Linked DNA regions of Homo sapiens: regions 2, 3 and 4 are each linked to region 1. The links come from fine-mapping of genetic effects on gene expression. A gene starts in region 1. Each other region holds a variant in brackets. All regions are shown on one strand. Distances are from middle to middle. Region 1 holds the start of ATE1 (arginyltransferase 1). Region 2 overlaps NSMCE4A (NSE4A component of SMC5/6 complex). Region 3 overlaps TACC2 (transforming acidic coiled-coil containing protein 2). Region 4 overlaps TACC2 (transforming acidic coiled-coil containing protein 2).

The links. PIP is the estimated chance that this variant, and not a neighbour inherited with it, causes the effect.
Region 2: its variant is the best candidate, but not a certain one, in a credible set for the expression of ATE1 in tibial artery (GTEx, PIP 0.70).
Region 3: its variant is the best candidate, but not a certain one, in a credible set for the expression of ATE1 in thyroid (GTEx, PIP 0.80).
Region 4: its variant is the best candidate, but not a certain one, in a credible set for the expression of ATE1 in sun-exposed skin (GTEx, PIP 0.63).

What each region holds. Positions count from the first base shown.
Region 1 is chr10:121,925,111-121,930,146 of GRCh38, reverse strand. It overlaps ATE1 (arginyltransferase 1), which reads left to right and starts at 2,116. Exons shown (of 12, transcript NM_001001976.3): 1 at 2,116-2,303. The coding sequence starts at 2,198. It also overlaps the pseudogene ATE1OSP. RefSeq lists silencers at 1,535-1,834, 2,025-2,444 and enhancers at 1,350-2,216, 2,755-2,904.
Region 2 is chr10:121,962,959-121,967,994 of GRCh38, reverse strand. NSMCE4A (NSE4A component of SMC5/6 complex) reads left to right here. Exons shown (of 11, transcript NM_017615.3): 4 at 189-340; 5 at 2,610-2,709; 6 at 4,667-4,757. Among named protein-coding and RNA genes, the nearest start is that of NSMCE4A, 9.7 kb to the left of the region's middle. The variant G/T (reference allele first, on the strand shown) is at 2,319.
Region 3 is chr10:122,196,182-122,201,217 of GRCh38, reverse strand. The region is part of intron 8 of TACC2 (transforming acidic coiled-coil containing protein 2); the gene reads right to left. Among named protein-coding and RNA genes, the nearest start is that of BTBD16, 73 kb to the left of the region's middle. RefSeq lists enhancers at 1-283, 284-1,229, 4,716-5,036. The variant G/C (reference allele first, on the strand shown) is at 2,058.
Region 4 is chr10:122,082,805-122,087,840 of GRCh38, reverse strand. TACC2 (transforming acidic coiled-coil containing protein 2) reads right to left here. Exons shown (of 23, transcript NM_206862.4): 4 at 1-5,036. Among named protein-coding and RNA genes, the nearest start is that of TACC2, 96 kb to the right of the region's middle. RefSeq lists an enhancer at 1,874-2,375. The variant C/T (reference allele first, on the strand shown) is at 2,145.

The DNA.
Region 1 (5,036 bases):
CACATCCCCCTCACCGAGATGGTAGAGATAGTGATCAATAAATACTGAGGGAACTCAGAGACCAGTGCTGGCGCGGGTCCTCCGTATGCTGAGCCCTGGTCCTCTGGGCCCACTGTTCTCTACACTTTGTCTCTGTGTCTTACTTTTTTTCTCAGTCTCTCGTCCCACCTGACGAGAAACACCCACAGGTGTGGAGGGGCTGGCCCCCTTCAACAAGTCACCAGGCCACCAAGAAACCTCCTTCAGCTAGGTACATATCTAACACAGGCCCTTGGGGTCAAGAATGTCAAAACTCACCTCAAAAATTTATTTCTATTTCTCTGAGTTTCATTTCACTTTTTTAAACACACTTAAAACAATATTGTATCATCAGCTTTATTGTTGACTGGGAAAACTATGAGGACAGACAGGCTTAAATTATCTGTGCACGCAGAGGGAAAGATAAGGCATATTACCTTGTTGGAACTCTTTTTTTTTTTTTTTGAGATGGAGTCTCGCTCTTTCGCCCAGGCTGGAGTGCAGTGACGCGATCTCTGCTCACTGCAAGCTCTGCCTCCCGGGTTCACGCCATTCTCCTGCCTCAGCCTCCCGAGTAGCTGGGACTACAGGCGCGTGCCACCACGTCCCGCTAATTTTTTGTATTTTTTAGTAGAGAAGGGGTTTCACCATGTTAGCCAGGATGGTCTCTTATCTCCTGACCTCGTGATCCACCCGCCTCGGCCTCCCAAAGTGCTGGGATTACAGGCGTGAGCCACCGCGCCCGCCCCTGGAACTCATTTTTTAAAAAATTTTTTTGAGATGGAGTCTTGCTCTGTCACACAGGCTGGAGTGCAGCGGCGTGATCTCGGCTCACTGCAAGCTCCGCCTCCCGGGTTCACACCATTCTCCTGCCTCAGCCTCCCGACTAGCTGGGACTACAGGCGCCCACCACCACGCCAGGCTGATTTTTTGTATTTTTAGTAGAGACGGGGTTTCACGTGTTAGCCAGGATGGTCTCAATCTCCTGACCTCATGATACGCCCGCCTCGGCCTCCCAAAGTGCTGGGATTACAGGCATGAGCCTCAATTTTATATTTTGCCCTAGACTCTTATTCCTTAAATCTTCCTTAAAATAGTGGTTGCAAAATGGAGGCCCATGGGCTGGATTCAGCCTGTAAAACTGTTTTGTTTGGACTGTAGAGTTAAAAAAAACAAACAAACCCTGTATTTCCAGCATCTCATTAAAAATCGTATGAGGCACCGGACTTATAGTGGTACAAGACAGCAACTGTCTCTAGCTGACAGTTGTTTCCTTTAAAAGCCGTTAAGAGTTCTTTAATTTGCGAACCCTCGCCATTCACGGAATACCTGCTTGTGTTCTTGTATTCAGGGCACTGGAGTGCGTGCCAGCTGGTCTGGAAGCAGCTCCAGCAAGTCACTTACACGGTGGCCAGGGGCGGCCTGACTTTCAATCCGAGACCCGCCGGGAATGACTTTGGGATAATCACAACCTCCGGTCCTCAGTTTCCTTACCTGTGAAATGGGGCTGATAACGCACAGCTGTGGGAAGCACCGGCCCAAACGCAGGGCTTGGGGACACGACCACCATCCCCGCCCACGGGTCCCCGCGCCAGGCTTCGCTCTCCACCCCTCCCGCCGCGGGCCCCAGCGCTTCGCCGAGGTCGGCCCCGGGCGCCAAGAGGCGTGGTCGGCCCGAGCGGACCCTCGCGGCGGCCATGGCGTCGGTGGTGGAATACAAGGGCCTCAGGGCCGGCTACCACTGCGGCTACTGCGATTCCAAGGAGGGCAAAGCGTCCTGCGGTGAGTGTTCCCGACGCCGGAGTTGGCGCGGCCGCCGCGCCCCGCACAGGCCCTCGGCGGGGGAAAGGGCAGGCTCGCACCCCGACTCCCGCTTCCCTTCCCCTCTTGACTCTCCCCATCCTGTTTCCCTTCCCGCTCTGTCTCTCCGCCTCACCCTCACTGACGACGGCGGCCCCTTATGGAGAAGGAACGGAAATAGTGGAAAGCTGCCCTCGGTCAAGATGGCGCGGGCGGCGTCAGCTCCAAGAGGCGCCGGGCCGGCCGGGCCTGCGGGCGCCCGAGTGGCTTCGCGCGAGCCTCGGGAGGCTCCCGGGCGGCGCGCTGCATTGTGGGGTGGCGGCGGCGGCCGCGCTAGCGACGCGGGGCCGGGCGGCTGAGCGTTCGCGGGGCCGAGGCCATGGCTTTCTGGGCGGGGGGTTCGCCCAGCGTCGTGGACTATTTCCCTAGCGAGGACTTCTACCGCTGCGGCTACTGCAAGAACGAGTCGGGCAGCCGCTCCAATGGTGAGCGAGCCGGGCCGGCGGGCGTGGGAAGCCGGGCGCCCGGGTCTCGGGATCCCAGGGTCCCCCAGCGAGGACGCGAGGGGGCCGGAGCCCCTGGCCCCAGTGCCACGGCCGAGACGGAGGGGGCACTCTCGGGAGGGCCGCGGCGCCGGCTTAGCGGGGCAGCTTCGCGGTGCCTGTTCTGCAGGAAAATCCTAACCGGTGCCCGTACTCTCGAAATCGTGGTGGTCTCCCCAGAGTCGGGAGACGGACGCCCGTCTGGGGTAGATTGTGTGAGGTGAAGGACGGCGCGCAGTGCCAGGGAACGCCCCAGAGCCGTAGTTAATGGCCGGGGCTGACCGGTGGGTGCTGCGGTGGGAGCGTCCCGGGAGCGAGGGCGAAACGCGGTGCAGAGGGAGCTGTGGGTGTGCACACAGGTGCCGGTCATGTATGAATCAGACTTCCCTGGACGAATGTACAGGAAGGATGAGCCCTTTGCATCTCTGGGTTAAAAAAAAAAAAAGTTAAAAAAAAAAAGGACAAGAAACTGGTGACCGCGGTCGCTACCGGCGAGGGATTCTGTTTGTCCTGATCTGTTTGAAATTTTTACCATTTGCTTATATGCCGTGTCTTTCCTCCACCCACCCGGACGACAGCAAAGCCAGCCCACAAGTTTGTTTTGTTTTTCCATCGTGATTCAGATTTCTTTGGGGGAGATTTGTTGCTGGTAAACAAAACATCGTGTTTATTTCCTCTCTTGCCATGCATTTGCCAATATAGAATGTAGACTCTATTATTTTAATAGAACAGTCTAGCTTTGTGGAAAACGAGATTCGCATGAAAACACACAGGCATTTTCCATGAAAAAGGTGTAAGTGGGGAATGATTTGGTCGATAACGGTGTGTGCATTTGCTCCTTCATTAAAAGTGTTTATTAAGTGCTACTTGTGGGCAGCGGTTTTGAGTAGACAGTTATGCAATCGTTAGAAGTGAGGATTATGAAGACTAAATGGAAAAATGCTTCCAGTTTGGACTTAAACGGAGAAAATCAACAGGATGCAAATGGCTTATGCGACATGATTACAGTTCTGAAAGGAAGAAGGCCCGGAAGTACACCAAATCGTGACAGTGGTAATATGGCCTTAGAGTATTGTGGATTTCTACCTTCTCTTTTTCAGAATTTTTGTATTTTGGCTATAATATTTATCAAATCAATAAGTTACATTAAACGTGCCTAAAATTAATATTTTAATAGGTCATTACTTATTTTTTTCCAATAATTGTGATAAGAGAAAATTGGCTAACATAAATGTCTTGTATTTCACGTTTTGTCGAAGAAACCTGCCTGCAACCTTTCCATCAAGAGAAAATAATCATCAATTTCTAGTATCTCGATTTTAATTTTAATACTCTTTATTATGGGGCATCTACTTACTTGGTAGGTGAGTTTTATTTTTTTATTTACAGATGATGAAATTGAGGCTTATTGGGTAACTCCTTAGTGTGAGTGAGTGCCTGCCAGGTGTCGGGATATTTCTGTTGGACTCCAGTGCCATGCTTTTCCCACTATATTCTGCTCTATCAAGCCTGTCATATCTCTGATGTGATTTACTGTTTACAAAAGGGAAAAATCCATTTATTTATTTATTTATTTTGAGACACAGTTTCACTTTTGTTGCCCAGGCTGGAGTTCAGTGGCACAATCTTTGCTCACTGCAACCTCCACCTCCCAGGTTAAAGGGATTCTCCTGCCTCAGCCTCCCGAGTAGCTGTGATTACAGGTGCCCGCCACCACGGCCGGCTAATTTTTTTGTATTTTTAGTAGAGACGGGGTTTCACCATGTTGGCCAGGCTTGGTCTTGAACTCCCGACCTCAGGTGATCTACCCGCCTCGGCCTCCCAAAGTGCTGGGATTATAGGCATGAGCCACTGCACCTGGCCCATTTCTTTTTTAACTTTAATTTTTTTTTTTTTTTTAAGAGGCAGTCTTGCTCCTTTGCTCAGGCTGGAATGCAGTGGTGTGTTCATAGCTTACTGCAGCCTCAAATCTCAAATTCCTGGTCTCAAGCCTCCTCCCACCTCAGCCTCCCAAGTAGCTGGGACCACAGGCACAGGCCACAAAACCTGATTAATTATGATTATTATTTTTTTTTTGTGAAAACAGAGATTTGGTATGTTGCACAGGCTGGTCTTGAACTCCTGACCTCAAGTGATCTTCCATGTTGGCCTTCCAAAGTGTTGGGATTATAGGCTTGAGCCACCACCTCATGAAGCCTTTAGTTCTGATATGCCTTTAAATGTTTCCTCATAGTCTTCGTTTTTTTTCATAGTTGCGTGATTATTCCATCATGTTGACAACATCATAGCCCCTGTAATCATCTTCCTGTTCCTTGGCATTTGAGTTACTTTCTTTCTTTCTTTCTTTTTTTTTTTTTTTGAGACAGAGCTTCACTCTTGTTGCCCATGCTGGAGTGTGGAGTGCAATGGCTCGATCTCGAGTCACTGCAACCTCCGCCTCCTGGGTTCAAGCGATTCTCCTGCCTCAGCCTCCCAAGTAGCTGGGATTACAGGCATGTGCCACCATTCCCGGCTAATTTTGTGTTTTTAGTAGAGATGGGGTTTCACCATGTTGGCCAGGCTGGTCTCAAACTCCTGACCTCAGATGATCTGCCCATCTTGGCCTCCAAAAGTGCTGGGATTACAGGCGTGAGCCACTGTGCCCAGCTGAGTTACTTTCAGTTCTTACACTTAGAA
Region 2 (5,036 bases), 38 kb before region 1:
AGGTAGCTTTGGAAGCAGGACTTTAACTGTAAAGTTATCTTCACAGTAAGAAATTTAGCCAGCATGTTAAGACACTGAAAGCTGGCTTTGCGTCTGGCCTCTTAAAGGTTGAGTGATGCGGATTATTGGATGTGGAAAATGATTGCATGTGGCTTAACTGGGTTTTTTGTTTTCCTTCATTTTTGTAGCTCACACATATGGGTGTAAATCCGCTAGAAGCTGAAGAACTCATCCGTGATGAAGATAGTCCTGATTTTGAATTCATAGTCTATGACTCCTGGAAGATAACAGGCAGAACAGCAGAAAACACCTTTAATAAAACCCATACATTCCACTTTCTGTAAGATTATTTTAAAAATCCAACAGACCAGTTATTTGTGAACCTTAAATTGCTTTTTCTTGTAGGGACAAAGATTATTTGGTATTGTAGAGGTGACAGTCATGATGCCGTTGTTTGGAGACTTTTGAAACTTTGATATGAAAGTTCATAAACACTAGGCCGGGTGTGGTGGCTCATGCCTGTAATCCCGGCACTTTGGCAGGTGGATGCAGGTAGATCATCTGAGCTCAGGAATTCAAGATCAGCCTGGGCAACATGGCGAGAACCCATCTCTACCAAAAATACAAAAAATTAGCCCGCTGTAGTGGCCCATGCCTGTGGTCCTGGCTACTTGGGAGGCTGAGGTGGGAGGATCACTTGAGCCTGGGAGGCAGAGATTGCAGTGAGCTGAGATTGCGCCATTGCACTCCGGCCTGGCTGACAGTGAGACCCTGTCTCAAAAAAGAAAAAAAAGTCCATAAACTCTAGATGTGGATGGAACCTTAAAGGATCTCTCATTCTGCTTTAGCAGAAAAGGCCAGAACCTCTTTACCAGTGCTCTCCTGGCTCCTTTGCTTCTAGCTCATGAGACTCTGGGTTTATCATCTTTAAAATCCTTATCATATAGGAGGATGATACCTCCTACTGAGGGTATCTTATGAGTCTCCCAACGTCTAAAGTGACATTTATTATAATACCCTGTTAGATGACCACTGACTTGTATTTGAAGATTACTTGTCACTGCCACATAAACTGTCCAGTTCATTTTTTAGATAGAACTCTGATTTAAAAAAAAGATTTCTTTATATTTGAATGAAGTTGGCTTCTGTCTTAACTTCCTGGCATGGTCCTATGGAGAAATTAAGAACAGCTCTTACTGGCTCTTCTCTAAGAGGACCTTCAAGTATACTGGTTTTGTTGCCCAGTAAATACTTTAGGGTAGCCATCTGAGTTGTTCAGTCCTTCTTTAAGTGGTATAGCTCCTGGGCTTTTGTCTTTTCTAATTTGTCTTTCTAAAAACCATTGAGATTGATAGTAGCTCGGGTAGAAGGCCTTGGAGATGCCAATGTAGTAGTGTGGTGTGGGGTCTGGCATCTATTTTTAATAAGACTTCAGGTAACTCAGGTGCCCAGAGCCATTTGTGTATGTTCTATTTAATAGGATGTAGTCCAAACTTCTTCATCTTAGGATAAAGTCTAAATCTTTGTTTTTTGCTATTGTACTAAACTCATAAATCCTAGGTTATAAAGATAAAGCCTTAAACTTTATCTCATCATCCAGCCCAATTTCCAGCCACAATGAAGTACTTAAAACTCTGTGTCTTTGTACTTGCTGTTCTCTTGGCCTCCAATTCCTTTTCATCTTTTCCATTCGGTAAAGTTTGTTTATCCCACAGGCCCCATCTTGGAAGCCTCCAGCAACTTCTCCAGACAGAGGTGTTAGCAGTGTAGGATCAGATTTCTCAACCACGTCACTCCCATGTCTGGGTAGATATCTCTGCCCAAGTGTTCTCATAGCACTTGAGCAGTACTCTCTAAGCGCCCAGGATCTACCATGTTGCTTTTTTAAAATTTGATTAATTTATTTTTTTATACTGCTCCTTGTGGAGCAGGAGTGTTCCCAGAGTAGCCCACCATGTTATATTGAAATGGATCTGTGTGCATAATGCAGCTGTCCATCTACATCGTATATTTTTGTCTCCTCAAGGGTAGGGACCACATGAGCCTTATTCTTGGGGCTTTGATCTCTACATGATGCAGACTTACATCTATTACTGTAACCCAAGTCTGCATGAGGGCAGAATCCAGAAGGAAAAGGAATCCCATGGCTGTGACTTGCCCTGTTATCCTAAGACAGATGTGTTCTGTAGTCCTGGGCTGGGAGCCTCTGCCTTGGCCTCCCCAGATCAAAGTCTTCTGACCCCACTGGAGCTTCCCCACATACATGTTCATCCTTCCCCTGCTCTTAGAAGTTGGCTTTGCAAAACAATAGGTTGGGT[G/T]GTGGGAAGATGTCACAGGCATATTCACTGGCCTACTTTACAGGGCAGTATGTAGGTGTCTGAGGAGGTATCTGTGGTTGAGTAAAGCTCCTAGGAGTTCTTTTAGAAATACAAAGAAGGCAGAAAGGCTGTCACAAACCTTATCAAGAGTCTTACTCTGATGTCAGCTTGTATATCACTGATGTCTGGTCTGAATTTGACTATACCATGCAAACTACTTTTAGTTAGTAAAGTTAGTTTGTTTAACAAACAACAGGCAAAAAAAATAAATGAAAGCATACTTTTCATTAGGTTGGGTTCAATATACGGAGAGTGCCCTGTGCCAAAGCCACGAGTTGATCGTCCAAGAAAAGTTCCTGTGATACAAGAGGAGAGGGCAATGCCTGCCCAGGTTTGTTTTAAAATGTTGCTTTTAAAAAAACACATTAAAGTTAAAATAGCTGTTAAAATAATGTGCATGCAATTTGGCCATTTTTTCTAAGTGTGCGGGTCTGGAGCCAGGTTTTGTCACTTAAATAATCATTTTATTTAAGCCTTTAAGCATTTTATTGGATTGGCTGCTTGTCTTTGTTTTAACTCATTTCTCTAGTTTTGATCAGTTCTCCGAAGCCAGGGTCAACCTCAGCACTGTCAACATTTACGGCTGGATAATGTTGGTTTGGGGAGCTGTCCTGCGCATTGTAGGATGCTTAGCGGCATCCCCAGCCTCTACCTGTTATATGCTAATAGCCCCCCCGACCCCTGAGTTGTGACAACCAAAAATGTCTACATGTGACAACAAATGTTCCCTGGGGAGGTGGGGGGAAAGTCACACCCACTCGAGAACCACTGTTTCTAAACCGCCCTTTTGTATTTTGCTATTTTATGTTCAACCTGAAAATGGTTAATCTGGTAATGTTACTATTCTATTAAGAAATTGATATGAAAATGTTACTGAGGCCAGGCACAGTGGCTTACGCCTGTAATCCCAGCACTTTGGGAGGCCGAGGCGGGCAGATCACAAGGTCAGGAGTTCGAGACCAGCCCGGCCAATACGGGGAAACCCCGTCTCTACTAAAAATACAGAAATTAGCTAGGTATGGTGGCAGGTGCCTGTAGTCCGGGCTATTCGGGAGGCTGACGCAGGAGAATTAGGAATCTAGGAGGCAGAGGTTGCACTGAGCCGAGATCATGCCACTGTACTCCAGCCTGGGCGACAGAGCGAGAGTCCGTCTCAAAAAAAACAAAGGTTGCCCGAGTGTGGTGGCTTACGCCTGTAATCCCAGCACTTTGGGAGGCCAAGGCGGGCAGATCCACCTGAGGTCAGGAGTTAGAAACCAGCCTGGCCAACATGGTGAAACCCTGTCTCTACTAAAAAGTACAAAAAATTAGCCAGATGTGGTGGTGGGTGCCTCTAATCCCAGCTACTCTGGAGGCTGAGGTAGGAGAATTGCTTGAACCTGGGAAGCGGAGGTTGCAGTGAGCCGAGATGGCACCACTGCACTCCAGCCTGGGCCACAGAGCAAGACTCCATCTCAAAAAAAAAAAAAAAAAGTTACTGAAACCAGAAAATCTGTTTTTTTTTAAACCATAATTTTTTTTGAGACAGAGTCTTGCCCTATCACCCGGGCTGGAGTGCAGTGGCGCGATCTCGGCTCACTGCAACCTCCGCCTGCTGGGTTCAAGCCATTCTCCTGCCTCAGCCTCCCAAGTAGCTGGGATTACAGGCAGGCACCACCATGCCCGGCTAATTTTGGTGTTTTTTAATAGAGACGGTTTCACCATAATGGCCAGGCTGGTCTCGAACTCCTGACCTTGTGATCCACCTGCCTCAGCCTCCTACAGCGCAGGGATTACAGGCGCGATGTCGGCTCACTGCAAGCTCCGCCTCCCGGGTTCATGCCATTCTCCTGCCTCAGCCTCCTGAGTAGCTGGGAGTACAGGCGCCTGTCACCACACCTGGCTAAGTTTTTGTATTTTTAGTAGAGATGGGGTTTCACCGTGTTAGCCAGGATGGTCAGCAAGACCCCATATCTAAAAAAATTTTTTTTAATTAGCCAGGTGTCTTAGACAAGGTAGAATGAATTAAAAAAAAAAAAATTAGCCAGGTGTAGTGGTGCACGCTTCTAGTGCCAGCTACTCAAGAAGCTGAGGTGGTAGGATCCCTTGAGCACAGGAGTCTGAGGTTACAGTGAGCCGAGATCATGCAACTGCACTCTAGCCTGGGTGGCAAAGCAAGACCCTGTCTCAAAAAAAAAAAAGAGTTCGGGTGTGCAAGAGAGAAGAAAAGGAGTTTGGGTGTGCAAGAGAGAAGAAAACGTTAATAGGCCAGTAAGTAGGTCTGTCAGCTTGATAATGACTTTTTTCAGTTAAGAAGAATGGAAGAATCTCATCAAGAAGCAACAGAGAAAGAAGTAGAAAGAATCTTGGGATTGTTGCAGACATATTTTCGAGAAGATCGTAAGTGTAACACCATTCAAAGTGGAGCAATTTGTATTTATCTGTTCACTGAGGTTACTTGTATTTAAAAGGCAATTTCAGCTGTATGTAATATTTGAATAAATACATATGCATTTTATGAGGATTCTTCTCCCCTTTAGAAATTTCATGTGAAAACTTTGAAGTTAACGTTTTCATTTTTATCTTTAAAAGATGGGGATTTTTTTTGTTACAAAATGAAATATGCCATTCAAGTGAGAAATGTCAAAAGTAGCTGTTCCACCTCCCCTCATTATAAAA
Region 3 (5,036 bases), 270 kb before region 1:
GAGGTGGCCATCCTCTCACTGTAGATGTGGCCACTGTGGGCAGGTGAGGTGGCCGTCCTCTGACTGTAGATGTGGCCACTGTGGGCAGGTGAGGTGGCCGTCCTCTCACTGTAGATGTGGCCACTGTGGGCAGGTGAGGTGGCCGTCCTCTCACTGTAGATGTGGCCACTGTGGGCGGGTGAGGTGGCCGTCCTCTCACTGTAGATGTGGCCACTCTGGGCGGGTGAGGTGGCCGTCCTCTCACTGTAGATGTGGCCACTGTGGGCGGGTGAGGTCGCTGTCCTCCCCGTGTGAACACAGCCACTGTGCGCAGGTGAGGTGGTCGTCCTCTCAGTGTAGATGTGGCCACTGTGGGCAGGTGAGGTCGCCATCCTCTCAGTGTAGATGTGGCCACTGTGGGCAGGTGAGGTCGCCGTCCTCCCCATGTGAACATGGCCACTGTGGGCAGGTGAGGTGGCCGTCCTCCCCATGTGAACACGGCCACTGTGGGCAGGTGAGGTCGCCGTCCTCCCCATGTGAACATGGCCACTGTGGGCAGGTGAGGTGGCCATCCTCTCACTGTAAATGTGGCCACTGTGGGCAGGTGAGGTGGCCGTCCTCTCACTGTAGATGTGGCCACTGTGGGCAGGTGAGGTGGCCGTCCTCCCCATGTGAACGCAGCCACTGTGGGCAGGTGAGGTAACTGTCCTCCCCATGTGAACACAGCCACTGTGGGCAGGTGAGGTGCCCGTCCTCTCACTGTAGATGTGGCCACTGTGGGCAGGTGAGGTAACTGTCCTCCCCATGTGAACACAGCCACTGTGGGCAGGTGAGGTGCCCGTCCTCTCACTGTAGATGTGGCCACTGTGGGCAGGTGAGGTCGCCATCCTCTCATGTCTCCTCACCTGGCTCTATGCAGGCCCCAAACTCTCCATCGTCCTTCCAGCCTGGGATGAACGGGGCTTGGATCTGGTGGCTGTGAACCCATATACCCCTGGCTCGATGGCCAGGGCCCCCAGGTGCAGTGCCAGCCTCTGCCTGGACTGCATCAGAATCTCCAGTGGTCTCACCTGTTCCCTGGTCCTGGGCCCATGAAACACTCACATTGTGAAGAGGGAGCAGCCGGCCCAAGAGGGCCCGAGTGCCTGTGGCAGCCAGATCCAGGCCTGAAAAGGCTCGGCCCTCAGCTTGCTGTGTGCTCTGGTCCGAATGTGTGTGTCCCCGAAATTCCTATGTTGAAATCCTCATATAAGGTGATGGTATCAGGAGGTGGGGCCTTTGGGAGGTGATGAGCTCATGGGGGCAGTGTCCTCATGAGTGGATTAGTGCCCTTACGAAAGAGGACTGAGGAAGACTGTGTGTCCTTTCACCATGTCAGGACACAGGGAGGAGGTGCTGTCTATGAACAGAAAGCAGGTCCTCACTAGACACCAAATCTGCCAGTGCCCTGAGCTTGGACTTCCCAGCCTCCAGAACTGTAAGCAATACATTTCTGTTGCTAACAGGTACCTGGTCTATGGTTACGTTGATAGCCGTGTGATCAGACCTAAGACAGTGTGCTGTCATCAGCTGTCATAGGGAATTCTTGTGTGGGTGAAGAGGGAGAGTCTGTAAGCACCTGGCCCAGGTCATAGCAGGTGTCAGGAAAAGGCAACCACAGCCCCCTGCTCTTCACACGCCATGGTGACACCCACCCCTGTGCCCCTGCCCCAGGCTGGGAAGGGCCTCAGCTGGATTCTGGGATGCCCCACCCCATGCCAGGAAGTCTCCCGTGGCTACAGGGAGCACCCACGTATGGCCTCTTTGGAGACAAAAGCAGGTGACAGTGTATACGAAAACCAGAGGCGGGCCCAAAGAAAAGGGAAGCCACTGTGTGCTCTGCAGCCAGGCTGGGCACTGAGCTCCATTCCAAGTCAATGTGAGGACAGCTGTCCACAAACAGCCACTTAGAGCACAACGAGTGCCTGGCGAGGACACTGGTGCTTGGATCTGGTGGCTGTGAATCTGTATACCCTTGGCTCAATGGCTCGGGCCCCCAGGTGCAGTGCCACAATCAGTGCCTGGGGACCATGTCCTGG[G/C]AGACAGAGGAAAGGTATAGGCACGCAGGGCACAGGGAGGCCCCCATTACCTCCAAGGCCCCAACACGGGCCTTTCCCTGGGCTTGGCAATCTCCTAGCAAGAATGAGTAAAGAAGCTGCATTCCCCAATGCTGAACAATGTCCCTGAAGGGCAGGTGGGCAACTGTCAGAATGGACCTGCCTCAGCTCTCCTGCCATGTCGCCCCCACTGATCACCCACTGACTCGCAATCCTTTGCCCCATCCTTTGCCTCGGGGGCGTGGCCTAGGCTGCAGCTCTCAGGACAGGCTGGCAGGACTGCCCCAGCACACATCTAAGCAACAGCAGGTCCAGCAACAACTTTCACTCAACACCTACTAAGGGCCTGCCCCAGGCTAGGCGCACAAAGGCACCAGCTCACTGTACCTGCGCAGAGAGCAGTCTGGTTCCAAATGGAAGGGAGCCGGGCTTGGAAGTGGGGAGGCCTGGGTTCTGACACCAGAGTCCCCTTATCGCTGTGAGATGGCGTATGAGGTTCGTAACCTCCGCGTGTCACTGGGGAATCAGGGGAAGACATCCACTATACAGGGATGCTGTGTGCATACGGCTGATCCTCCCTCACCTGAGTGGGAGATGAAACACTCAGAGGACCTAGCATAGCCCTGACAAGGCAAATGCTTGAATGGGAGCTATTATTTAATTACATGACATGTAATTATGACCCTTGGTGGCCGGTTTTGAGTTCTAATAACACGGTCACTGTACATCAGCCAACCATTCCCTTCACAGGACCTCGGGAGGCCGGAGCTGGAAGGATCTGAAGGGACCCACAGATCACCCTCTTCATTTCACAGATAAGGGAACTGCGTTCAGATGAGCTGAGTCCTGGCCCGCCCCAGCTGGCAGCAGGTGCAATCCTTTGCCCCATCTTCTGCCTCAGGAGTGTGGTCCAGGCTACAGCCCTCAGGACAGGCTCATGGGACTGCTCTGGCCCACACATCTTCCATCCCAGGGAGCCCAGACACGCTGGTAGGACCCAATGTAGGGCAAGTGAGTGCTTTATAAAATGTAGGTTGCCAGGGGGAAAAACCATCTTTATTCACAGCCAAAGGTGTTGTGTATTAATTCACGTGGTTCCCACAGCACCTTTCGCAACATCCCGGGCACTGTGCAGAGGAAAGTAAACAATAGATTTTCCCCTGGTACCCTTCTTTCCTATGGTTGAGAGAACAAATCTTTCTTCTCCTACAGCCACCTACACTAGCAAGCACAGCTGCCTTCCCACGCCTTCGTAATGCCCCATGCTGGTCTACAGAATGGACGAGGGGACCCTCCGCCTGGGAGGCGGTTTTCTAACCAGGGCAGCAAATCAAATGGATCTTTGTACAGCCCAAGCTAGGGGGGCTTTCAGCAGACACAGTTCCAACCGTAAGTCTCCTGAGTGTACAATCCTCACACAGCTAGCCTTGCTGCCGTTTTCAAAGGAGGAGAAACATAAAGTCCCCGTTCAAACACTCCAATTGGTGTAATCCAAGGTTCTGAGGGGCTGTGACTCCACAGCAATTAACGTTTCCATCCCCTTCCCTGGTGGGGGTTATCTTTTAATCCTCAATAATGCTCATTCTTTTAGTAACTGCCATCTAAGAAAAAGATGGATGTTGTGCGTGTTCGTTTTAAGAATGGAGATTGTTCTCTGCTTTGTTGAAAGGAAGTTAGGCAGAAGGAAGAAGGACAGGATCAAAGAAGAGAACAGAGTGGCATCCCATTCATCCCAGAGCTGGCAGGATGTCGGACTGGGAATCCCAGAAGACGCACCTGTGGCCACAAGTGGCCTCTCCGCACACTCCTTGGTGCTGGGGATGGTACATGCCCTATAACATGCTATCATTTTCTTCTAAACATTTGTTTGTTTGTTTATTTTGAGACAGAGTCCGGTTCTGTCACCCAGGCTGGAGTGCAGTGGCATGGTCTCGGCTCACTGCAACCTCCACCTCCCGGGTTCAAGCGATTCTCCTGCCTCAGCCTCCTGAGTAGCTGGGACTACAGGCGTGCGGCACCATGCCTGGCTAATTTCTGTATTTTTAGTAGAGACGGGGTTTCACTATGTTGGGCAGGCTGGTCTCGAACTCCCGACCTCAGGTGATCCACCCTCCTTGGCCTCCCAGAGTGCTGGGATTACAGGCGTGAGCCACCATGCCCGGCCAAGCATAGTTTATTCTTTGTTTTTTTGTTTTTTTTTTTTTTTTTTGAGACGGACTCGCTCTGTCACCCAGGCTGGAGTGCAGTGGTGTGATCTCCGCTCACTGCAAACTCCGCCTCCTGGGTTCACACCATTCTCCTGCCTCAGCCTCCCGAGTAGCTGGGACTACAGGTGCCCGCCACCACGCCCAGCTAATTTTTTGTATTTTTAACGGAGATGGGGTTTCACCGTATTGGCCAGGATGGTCTCCATCTCCTGACCTCATGATCTGCCCGCCTCGGCCAGAATAGTTTATTCTTAATCACACATTTGACCTAGAGATTACAATGTGTTTGTCATCCAGCCACTTTCCATTAAAAATTATGGGTAAGTTTTTAAAAATATTACGAGAAATACAGTTTTATATGCTTGGTCATACAAAATAAAGGAAGAGATGCAAACGATGCTCTGAGAACTACAGACAGCCCTCCTGGCTCTTCTCTACTTTCAAATCAAAGAAATATCCGTCACTATCCTCCCAGAGTCTGGCATCTACACTGACTCAGCAAAATCCAGACACTGCTGCAGACTGATGAGCCGTCAAAGACGGGGGACATGGGAGCAGTATTCGGCAGACTCCACCAAAGGCATCAGCTCTCATTAAAACTGTCCTGCCCCCTTGTCCCAGCACGGGGGTTTGCTGGTTTAGGAACAAAGCTCCGGGAGTGTACATCCTTTCCAAAACAACGGGCTGCTCGAACCCACGGCGGATAAAAAGAATTCCACCCATTTCTTTCTAAAACCAACATCAAGGTCAAAAT
Region 4 (5,036 bases), 160 kb before region 1:
CCCTGGCTGCTCCTTAGCCTGCTGGGGCCTGGCTGGGCTGTCCCCATGAAGGGCAGCTGTACCCTCCATCCCCGGAGCCTTGTCAGAGCAGGCTGGGTCCTGACAGCTTCCTGGCAGCACCAAGTCACCTGCCACAACGGAGAATGTCCTCGTAGTACCTGCTTCAGGCAGATCACCGGACGCACATGCCTGTGTCTCAGCTGTGCTCAGGGTGATGTCACCCTCTGCTTCCCCAGCAGCGCCTGCCACCTTGCCAGGCTCCAGGGGAGTGTCTGCCACTTCTCCAGTTGGTGGTGCAGGGGTGCTCTGGTTGCCCAGGGCATTTCGCATTTCCAAGATGCCAGCAGTGACTCCGGGTCTCCTTTCACCCCCAAGCGTGTCAAGGGTCCAGGGCTCACTGTTGGCCTCAGGCACAGTCAAAACCTCCCTCTGAGGAGAAGGGGCACACGTGGACCTTGGCACATGTCCTGGAACCCCTGTGTGAGCAAAGTCCCCGGGACCATCTTCTCCATGTGGACTGTCGCAGGCAGATGTTTCCTGGTGCTGCTTTCCAGAAGGAATTCTGTCTTGGGCCACGGCCTCTTCTCCATGGCTATGGGGAGCCACCTGGAAGGCAGCAGCTCTCTCCACAGGGAGCTCCTGAGTAGCTGCTGGTGAAGGAAGACCTGAAGCTAATTCCTGCCTGCTCCTCTCCAGCTGTGAGTAAGCCTGGCCTTCCAGGCCTGGCCAGGCTGCCCCAGGCCCCTCTGGCCTCTCGTCTTCCCTCAGTGTGGGTGGGACACCTGCCATCTCCTTCCCCACACCGGCACCTGGCAAGTTCCGCTCCCAGGTCAGCCCTGCTGGACCCAGAAGCTTGTCTGAAGCTGGATCTTGCAGAGCCAGATGGGAAATCTCAGCCTCTCCAGCCAACTGTTGCTTCTTCTCCACCTGGAGTCGAGCAGGAGGTGCAGGGAGAAGGGTGACATCCACTCCTGGAGGCCCATCTAGAAGCTTCTCTGGGCCCAATGGCCTGGTGAGGTCTTTACCCACTGCACTCCTCCCAGCTCCTGCCTTTTCTCCAGGTGTGGCCAGGGCTCCGAGCACAGGCTTCTCGAAGATCTTGGCGATGTGCTCCCTGAAGTCTGGGAAGCCAGTGAGGGTGGCGATTTGCTCAGAGCTTGTGTCCACACCACCTGATGTGCCCTGCTTTGGGTCCTGGGAAGGCTCTCCCATCCTCTCCATGCTGCCCTCTGTCTCTCCTGCTGCATCACCTGCCATGCCCTCCCCACTGGCCTTGGCACCTGCACCTGGAGCTGTTGCTGCTTTCTCTTCCCCTGTTGCCTGCTTGCCCTTGGCCAGAAGTGGCATCCGGTCCAGGCATGGCATGGAGTCCACTGGTCCCTCAGTGGTTCTGGCTTTGGGACTACCACTGCTGGCTTGCACTGCAGGGATTTCCCCACCTGCAGCTCCTGGTTGCAACAGGGGGGCGAGGGAGCCAGCAAACAGCTTCAAGGAGGCAGCATTTTCCAAGGCAAGTGGGGGCTCCCCTACAGGACAGGGGCTTTCGCCAGGAGCTCTGGGGTCTGCAGAGGAAACAGCTTTCACTCCACTGTCTTCTGCTCCTCTCTGGGCAGCACTGTCGACATGCAGGTAAGGGGTGTCAGGAGCAGCCACTTCTGGTGGCCCAGACAGCAGGAGCTCCTTTGGGTCTGGGACAGCCTGGTGTGTAGAAAAATCCATGGTGCTCCTGGGAATCCCACCCAGCTCTCTGGCTGGCAGCAAGGCATCCTGGCAGCTGGCCATGGGGTGCTCAGCTTGGCAGGACTCACGTAGGGCAGAGGTAGAAGCTTCCTCCCCGGAGGTAAGGCAGTGCTCAGTCTGAAGGAGGCCACAACTCAAAGTAGCTTCTCCAGGTTTCTCCGGAGCCTGCTGCTTTCCTGGGTCTCCTGCACCAGCGCTGCCACCAGTCTCAGCAGCCCCGGCTTCACCACCTTGCTCCCCAGCTGATGGGAAACTTGCAAGAAGCTTTGGGGACTCTGCATCCGAAGTGGCCCAGCACTCCATTTTCTGCTGCGGGGCCGGCACTGGTTGCTGCCTGCCTTCCTGGGTTTCATCACATGCCTCTGTCTCTGGGGCATCCTGGGTGGGTGTGACTCCGGGGCTGG[C/T]GGGCGCCAGGGCTGGCAGGCAGGGAACTGCATCCAGGAGAGCTACTGAGTCAGGCTGACAAGGTGGGGCCTCCCCTGTGTTTCCACTTGCCATCTCCCTCTTACTCAAGCCCCAGAGTGGGGAACAACCATCAGCTGCTTCAGAAGCTCCTGGATGCCTTTGACATGCTTCTTCATGCTGGCTGCCTTCTTCCAAGGCATCAGCCAATGCCTGTTGAGACTTGTTTGGCCCCTGCCCAGTGCAGCAAGTTTCCTTTCTGCTGAAGTTCCCTGCAAGAGAAAAGTCTTTTAAGACATCTGCTGCTGGAGGCGAGACCCTCGAGGACTGACCATCACCGCATGCTCCCTCTGGCCGCTTCTCCCCTAGTGCAGGCAACTTCTGTCTCGTTGGTGCTGACAATTCTGACTCTTCTGTCAGAGAACTCTCCCAAACCATGTCAGTGGGAGATGAAGTTGGAGTATCAGACAGGGTGCCTTTGGGGAGCTGACTTTGAAGTTCTGATCCCAAAGCCTGCTCCTGTCCTCCATGAGTGGGCAAGTTGTTATCTTCCTGAGGTTCCACAGGTACATGGATTTGGGAAGAATCTGCTCCCTGGTCCTTAAAACCTGGATGGCTTGGAGAAGTCTCTTTCCCATTTTCAGGTGGCTGGGCCTGCTCCTTGAGCACGTCAAAGATGGATGTCTCTGGTTGTGCCTGGGATGGCTGGAGATGCTTCTCAGAAGATAGTAGGGGCCACTCGGATGCAGCTCCTCTTATCCAGCCTTCCCCTGGGCAGGATGGGATTCCCTGCTGATCTTGGTCCAGGATGAGTGCCGTGAGCCCCAGGTCTGCTGCCAAGTTCTCCCCCTGGGGGGGATGTGGCACCCCAGCATGAAATTCCTGTCTCGACGCATCACACGCCGGCCCGCGGGGTTGATCTGGGGACGTCAGCAAGCCCTCCCCATCACAGCTGCCCATCTTCCTTATTTCCAATGTGCTCTCACCTTCCTGGGCTTTGGGTGCAACCTCTGCAACAGGAGTTGGTGGAAAATCTGATTTCTCTGATTCTAAAGTCAGGAAAGACTCCATTCTTCCCAATCCTTCCCTGCTCTGAAGGGTGTCAGGACATTTGGGCTGCAATCCTGACCCCTCCCAGATGGCTCCTTCGGGAACAGTGGGCTCACCAGCTCCATCTGGCACAGGGGGCAGGACGGGGTCCTCCTCACCCAGCTTGTGTGGTAGGCCAGATGCATCAGCCTCTGCTGTCTGAGAGTGGGGCCCGTCCGTGTGCCCAGCACCCCCCTTTCTGGGTGGCTGTGCTGAGTGTGAGCTGGGATGGTCTCTGCTCTCTGCATCACTGCTTGGCTTTGAAAGCTCATCTTTGCCTACTTCTGGATCACGCTTGCTGCTGAAAGCCTGAGAGTCCTCTCCTTGCAGGTTCCCTGGGTCTCCACCATCAGGTGGCTCTGGGGCTTCCTCCTTTCCTCCAGGGCTGTCACCAGGTGATCTGCTTCCTTCTTTAGCCACGGCTGGGCTTGTGGAATCTTCATGGACCTTGGCTCCATCCGTTGGCCCCGGTGGCCCTCTGGCACTTTCACTTGGTGCCTTGGGAAGAGGAGGGGGTGGTGCTCCTGGTTGGACCTCATGGCTTTGCTCCTTGGGAAGAGGAGGGGGTGGTACTCCTGGTTGGACCTCATGGCTTTGCTCCGTGTTCAAGTGCTCTCCCCTCTCCTGGGGTGATGGGGCAGGAACCTCTCCAGGGTCCCCTTCTGGATGCTCTCCCTTGCTTCCAAGATCTGACACCTGCCTCTCCAGTCCCACCAACCCTGCATCCACCACCTCTTTGGCTGCATCTGCAGAAACTGGCATCCCAGCCTTGGAAACTGATTCCCTGGATGATGATCCAGGTTCTTCTACAGCAATAGGAATCTGAGCAGCTGGGAATGAAGCGAGGCTTGAAGCTGGATGTGCTTCCTCAGTCGGAGTGAGCAGGGAAGGTTCAGGGCTCACAGGCAAACCCCCTTCGGGCTGGCCGCCTGCTGCCACACAGACAACTTGATTGGGCTTGGTTCCTCGCATCCCTGTCTGTGGGTGACCCTGAACATCAATGGTGTCCAGAGCCTCCTTCCCAGAGCCCCCAGCCTCTGGCACCAGGGCAGGACTTGGCAAGCCCCAGGGCAGCTCTGCGTGCGGCAGATATGCTCCCACTGGCTGCTGGCAGCTCTCCTGGGAAGCGGCATTCACTTCTGCTTCTGGGGCAGCCCCTGAATTGCTCCTAGGGAGATGGCAGGCCCTGAGGAATTCCAAGTCATCTGTTAAATACTGAGGCGGCGCCTCCCCTTGGCCTCTTTCTCTGTCTGAGGCTCTTGGGGCTGGATCTTGTGGGATCGGGGCCATGGGTTTTAGGGGGGACTTCTCCAAGACCGCTGAGCTTTCTGTGCCCTGCTGGGCTGCAGCAGGGGCCTCAGGGGTCACTTGCACAGAAGCCACCCCCTGCCTGGACTCTGCAGGGGGAAAGCCACCTGCAGCCTCTTTCTCTTGGGACTCAAAACCACCAGGCTGGTCCCCCTCTCCACACAGCGGTGCCTTCATTGGCTCTCTGAGGGGTACTGGCGACATTCCAGGTGACTGGTCGATGCCACTGGAGAAGGAGAAGGAGGACTTCTGTCCTTCTTCCTTCGGCTGTCTCTCTCTTCCAGCACTGGGGACGGCAGCAATCTCTTGGTATGGAGTAGAGCTGTCCCTCTCAGCGGGAAATGCCGCCGCGATGTCTCCTGGGGCATTTGGGGCAGGTTCCCTCCTGGGAGACTGAGTCTGAGGACCATCTTCAGGTGCCGCTGCTGGACTTGCCAAGCAACCTTCCGGGGGACACTCGGCAAAGGGCATGGAGGACGAGGGGTGCTCTCGCTCCT